2 separate regions of the Homo sapiens genome follow, and region 2 is linked to region 1. Evidence: fine-mapped expression QTL. A gene starts in region 1. The other region holds a variant in brackets. All regions are shown on one strand. Distances are from middle to middle. Region 1 holds the start of PPP1R12A (protein phosphatase 1 regulatory subunit 12A). Region 2 has its middle 37 kb from the start of PPP1R12A-AS1.

The links. PIP is the estimated chance that this variant, and not a neighbour inherited with it, causes the effect. A credible set is the group of variants that fine-mapping cannot tell apart.
Region 2: its variant is the best candidate, but not a certain one, in a credible set for the expression of PPP1R12A in whole blood (TOPMed, PIP 0.51).

What each region holds. Positions count from the first base shown.
Region 1 is chr12:79,933,766-79,936,681 of GRCh38, forward strand. PPP1R12A (protein phosphatase 1 regulatory subunit 12A) reads right to left here and starts at 1,332. Exons shown (of 25, transcript NM_002480.3): 1 at 930-1,332. The coding sequence starts at 1,166. PPP1R12A-AS1 (PPP1R12A antisense RNA 1) reads left to right here and starts at 1,516. Exons shown (of 2, transcript NR_146535.1): 1 at 1,516-1,789. RefSeq lists enhancers at 152-717, 518-577, 718-1,281, 918-1,217, 1,264-1,558 and 1 more and a silencer at 748-837.
Region 2 is chr12:79,970,436-79,973,351 of GRCh38, forward strand. No RefSeq gene overlaps it. Among named protein-coding and RNA genes, the nearest start is that of PPP1R12A-AS1, 37 kb to the left of the region's middle. The variant A/G (reference allele first, on the strand shown) is at 1,408.

The DNA.
Region 1 (2,916 bases):
GAGAGATCCCAATCAGACTACTATAAAACTTTAATATGCACAAAGCATCCATTTTGAGAAAAGTTTGTGACCAGCTTTCTTTTTTCCCAACCCCAAAAGAAAAACCAGAGCTTGGTAACCGGCTTTGAAAAGAGTGTCCCCTATTTATTCTTCTCTTTCTAACACCAGTGCACACCCGAGGACCTGGGGCTCAAGGATCTCTGACACTGCGGCAAACTTCGAGTATCAGACTCAACACGTTCCGGTCCGGAGGTGGGCAAGCCCTTTAGAGGGCTTCCTTACTCTACCCACTTCCATCCCCTTCCTTTCAGCCGGTGCAGATCAGCTAATTACACCCTGTTTTCCCCTCCCCAGTGACCAAGAGTAATAAATGAGAAAACAGGAAATCGTTCGTTCAGGGCACTCGGCTTAGGGCTCTAGATTACTATTATTATCATCATTTGTAATCAAGTCCTAAAAAGTGCAACAAATCCAATGCCCACCTACAAGTCAAAGATGTTCATCTGCCTAACCGTCCGTAATGCCCCTTGTTAGTTTTCTTCCTTCAGCATCCACCCCTCCGAATATACCACTGACACCGGGGCCCAGGCACAACCCCACTACACCCCTCCTTGTCTCGACCCCAAATCCCAGACTTATCCACGAATGGCCCTGGGGCCCCAAACGACCACAGTTCCTTTTCCCCTATGCCCCGGAAATCACCCGGTTCCCAACTCCACCAGCAACTGTTCTGAAGGGGGGCCTCAAGCCCAGCGCCCTCCCTTCCACCAGCTCTCCCTCCCGCCCTCTGGGGAAACCGCCCCCTCACCCCGCAGCAGGGAGTCTCCCGCCGCCCCCAGCCTCAAGAGGTGGAGAACTGAGGGCAGGCCCGAGCAGGAGGCCGACGAGAACCCTCACGGTCAGGAGAGCCGGCGGCGGGGCGCACAGACCTGGTGCAGGGCAGTGAGTCCGTCCACATTGGCGTAATTGATGTCGGCGCCGCGGTGCAGCAGCTTGAGGACCTCGTCCGTGTCGCCGCTGGAGCAAGCAGCCAGGAAGACGGCGCCATCGTCGAACTTCACCTTGGTCTTCTGGCGCTTCACCACCGGAGGCTCGAGGTCCGTCTCGGAGCCGATCCAGCGTTTCAGCTGCTCGTTCCGCTTCTGCTTCGCGTCCGCCATCTTCATCCCCTCTCCTGCCGCCGGGTCTTCTTATCGCGAGGGGGGGAAGGGGGAGGCGGAGAGGGAAGAGAGGGGAGGCAGGGGGTGTGTGAATGTTTCTATGAGTGCGGGCCAGAGGAGGGCTGGGAACCCGGAGCCGACGCTCGAGACTTCCAGTATCCCACAGAGCACTGGGGCGGCGCACCCGGCCGAGCGGACCTCCCTTCCTACCACAGAAGCCCTCCCGCCCCCAGCACGGCCACCCGTCACCGGCGGCCAATCTAACGTAACTTCGCGAGATCCGGACTGGGAGGCGCCCTTCGACCAGTGCGCATGCGCCCTGGGCCTGTGCCCGCCCCAGGAAGAGCGCTCCCGCGAACTGCGGCGGTGGTGGCTGGGCCACCAGAGGGAAGCGGGTGTGGCCCAGGCAGCGGGGGCTGGGACAGACCTGGAAAGGAGGAAGCGGGGAAGGAAGGTTGTCCTGTCGGGCTGGGGGCTCCCGGGAATCCGGAGGCCAGCAGTGGAACCGCAAGGCTCTACAGGGCAGATCTGCCTCCCGTGCTGTCTCAGCTACGCCGAGTCGTTGGCTCAGGGCGGAGGATTTTCCTATTGGCCGCGTTATTTGAATGGAATGGAGGATAGGTCGTGAAGTAGGTGCTGCTGGTTGATCTTTCTAAGGAACTCAGATGAACTTGGGCATGTCAGAATTAATAACCTTTTAAAAGTGGGGTCTGTGTGGCCGAGGGTTTTAATGGTAAGTTCTTGAGGTGACCACCTATTGACAAGGGTTGACCTGCTGTAATTGCTGTGGCTTCCTGCCAACCCCCACTTTAGAAATGTTTTTCTTCCTCTCTTTACTTGTTTTGTTTTGCTTTCTCTCACGCTTGGGTTCTCTTCTTTCTTCCTTCAGTGCTTTAAGCCTGTCTCGTACTACCCATGAGCTTAGCTCAGCCTGATTACTGGTCCTTACCTTTTAAGGGATTTCTGGTTACAGCTCCATCTCTTTCTAAGGAGGGGTAAAGACCTAGCTGCGTCTAGCATTTAAACGGAACGTTAAGGAAGGCAATTAATTCAACCACTATTTATTGAATACCTACTATGAGCCAGTAACTGTACTAGGCACTGAAGATACAATGAAAAATATGACATTTATTTGAACCACCTCTTGAGTTCAGTCGCCCAAACAAGACTAATTTATCATCGTCATAAAAAAAAGACTTTAACTTTGCCTTGTATGACCACACGCGCACACACATAGGATTTGTAATACTGATGTCTTATGAGCCATCTATCTACAATCTCCACCAATTGATTTTACTGAACACTGCATTGTTACCATCCACTACTATTTTTAGAGCATTTAGAAAAGCCAAGATAAAAACCACAAAACCTTACCATGGAAGTTTAGGGGTCATCTAGACAGAGTCCCTCAAGAACTAATTAATTTACTTAATTTTACCCAGAAGTAGGATTAGAATTCACTCAGCAAATACTATGCACCTGTTCTGGGTCAGGCATTGTTCTAGGTGCTGGAGATAGAGCAGTGAACAAATAAGCTTTTCTTACTCTCAGCATGATGCCTTTTCCAGTGGACTACTTCACAGCCTATCATATTGAGAAATAAAATAATTGAGTAAAACGTGATTAGGAAACTGTCTGCCTGTGAGACAATTTTCTGAACCACAGTTATTAGGATAGCGATAGAATCCAGGTCAGGGTAAAAATATTTCCTCTGAAAACGTTGTAGGAATAGAAAATGAATGTAATATTCATAAGA
Region 2 (2,916 bases), 37 kb after region 1:
TGGACAATATTTATAGAAGTACTGTTCTGAACCCTATACGTGAATTAAAATATTTATTTTTCACAATTCTATGAGGTGAGTTCAGCTATTATCTCCATTTTAAAGTGGAGGCTAGTCAGGTGTGATAAAACCAAGTGCCTGTCAGACTACATAGATAGAATAAATGAGGGGCAACAGCTTGTCGTTTCTGCTTTAAATGTATTTTATTTTATTGTATTTTATAAGCTAAAAAGAATAATTTTAAAAATCAAAACAAAAAAGTCATTGAGTAAAACTTATTACATAATACCAGACCCAAATAAGCATACGTCTAGACCAAGGGACTAAATTGTAGCAGTATACGACTAATATGTTAAATGTAAAAAATGAGTAGCTGTTACTCAAAGAAAACAATTGTTCCTTTCCTATGAAGTAGTGTTTCTCAATCTTTTTGATCAGTTTACCTTAAGAAATTAATTTTATGTCACATTTAGTATTCTTACAAATGTATGTGTGTTTATAGATATAAATATTTGCATGAAATAATACAAGCCTTTACTACCTATGGTGCACTCTGATACTTTTTATTCTATTCTATTTCATGTTGTTTACAACATGCTAAGTTGATTTCACAGCCCACTAATGGGTCATGTCCAAGTTAAAAATCTTTGCTATAGAAAACAATTTTTTTGCTGTAGAAAACAACTTTTTCTCCGTAAGAGAAAATGATCATTGGCTCAAGATCATAATTGCATTATAACCCTTAGCATTCTGAGTGATGTAAAGTGTAAAATCTATCAAGTACTGCATATCCAGTTCCTATTATGAAAACTCTGGTAGTAAAAGAAACAGCAACATTTAAATACAATCTATTTCTTTCCTTTGCTGATTAAACTTGCCTCCTTCAGGAGATTAGGGCAGGACAACTCCTTTTAGTAACTCATTGAGGGCAGGAGGAGAATATAGTTTTTTAAATTCTCCCATAATGCCCAGCTCAAGGTAGTGGCTCAATTAAAACTTGCTGCTTTGATTAAACCAATATACTATGGCTATCAAAATATGGGTTATTGGTTACCAACTATGGCTGATTATTGGAATTTTCTGGAAAACCTAAAAAAATACAGAACCTTATTCAGAAAAATTATAATTTTATTTATCCTTTGATCCAGCAATCCTACTTCTAGGAATCAGCTCTGGGGACTGGTTGAATAAACTATGATATTGCCGAATTTTAAATTATTATGCAGTTATTAAAAAATGAGGAAGATCTCCATGATATATGGCTCAGTAAAAAAAAATCAAGGTGCATATGTTCTGTTTACTTTTGCACAAAGAAACACAGGAAGTATAACAAGGAACTAAAAAAAGAAAAGGTTATCCATGGGGTGATTTTTGAAATGGGGTGAAGGGGAAAGGGAATTATGTGAG[A/G]TTTAGAAATCAGGCTGGGCACAGTGGCTCAGGCTTGTAATCCCAGCACTTTGGGAGGCCGAGGTGGGCAGATTGCCTAAGCTCAAGAGTTTGAGACCACCCTGGGCAACATGGTGAAACCCTGTCTCTACTAAAATATAAAAAATCAGCTGAGTGTAGTGGTGGGCTCCTGTAGTCCCATCTACTCTGCAGGTCGAGGCAGGAGAATCGCTTGAACCCAGAAGGTAGAAGTTGCAGTAAGTCGAGATCATGCCACTACACTCCAGCCTGGGTGACAGAGGGAGACTCTGTCTCCAAAAAAAAAAAAAAAAAAGTAATCAATGTATGCCTTTTTATGTAGTTTTGGTTTTGAATCATGTAAATATTTTACATATTAAATAACACAAGATTAATTTCAAACCAAGAATCTCTAAAACTGAAAAGATAAACAAATAAGTCTTGCTATATGTCAAATTGCAAACATAACCACACAGAGAGAAAAAAATATATTTCCAGTGAATGTAATACTCTGTGCATCCTATTGAGATATAATGAAATATAATCTAAAGAGTAAAAAAACTTAAGAAACAAAGAAAAGGCCGGGCATGGAGGCTCACGCCTGTAATCCCAGCACTTTGGGAGGCCGAGGCGAGTGGATCACCTGAGGTTGGGGGTTTGAGACCAGCCTGACCAGCATGGAGAAACCCCATCTCTACTAAAAATACAAAATTAGCCGGGCGTGGTGGTGCATGCCTGTAATCCCAGCTACTCAGGGGACAGAGGCAGGAGAATCGCTTGAACCTGGGAGTTGGAGGTGGCGGTGAGCCGAGATCACGCTGTTGCACTCCAGCCTGGGTAACAAGGTGAAACTCTGTCTCAAAACAAACAAAAAAAGAAACAAAGAAGAAAAACCTTAAGCATCTCTCTGATTTTTATTGTTAGTATAATATTGCTATTATAATTTTTAAACCATTATTGCATATTTTTGGGGAAAATACATAAATATTTAAGGAGACAAGATTTTCAGTGTAAGAAAAGGATAACGTAAGTATGAAATCAAATAACTTACAAAAAAATCATATAATGTTGAGTTTGAATTGGAAATATCTCTGAAGGAACTAGGTTCCCTTAAAGAAATGGCTAATTCAAAGTCTGAGGCAGTTAGGTAAAAATAGAGCCTGCAGTGCCATGGGCCAGAAAGCAAGGAAGTCTTCAAACAAAGGAACTAGCTGGAAGCAGCTTCCATTGACCAAATTTGGAACAAATTAAGCATCTGTAAAGAATAACTAAATGATTATAAAACATTGAATAAATAAAAACCCATGAGTTCTGAGGAGAGAGAGAGAGAAAGAGAGAGGGAAAGAGAGGGAGGGAGGGAGAGAGAGACGGGGCGGGGGAGAGAGAGAGAGAGAGAAACTCATTTGCTACAAGTGGAGGAGACATTTATATCAGCATCTTATTCTGGAATTAGGTAAGAAATTATTTACCATGTCATTTTTTTAAAGAACTGTTGAAACCAGTTAATATGTG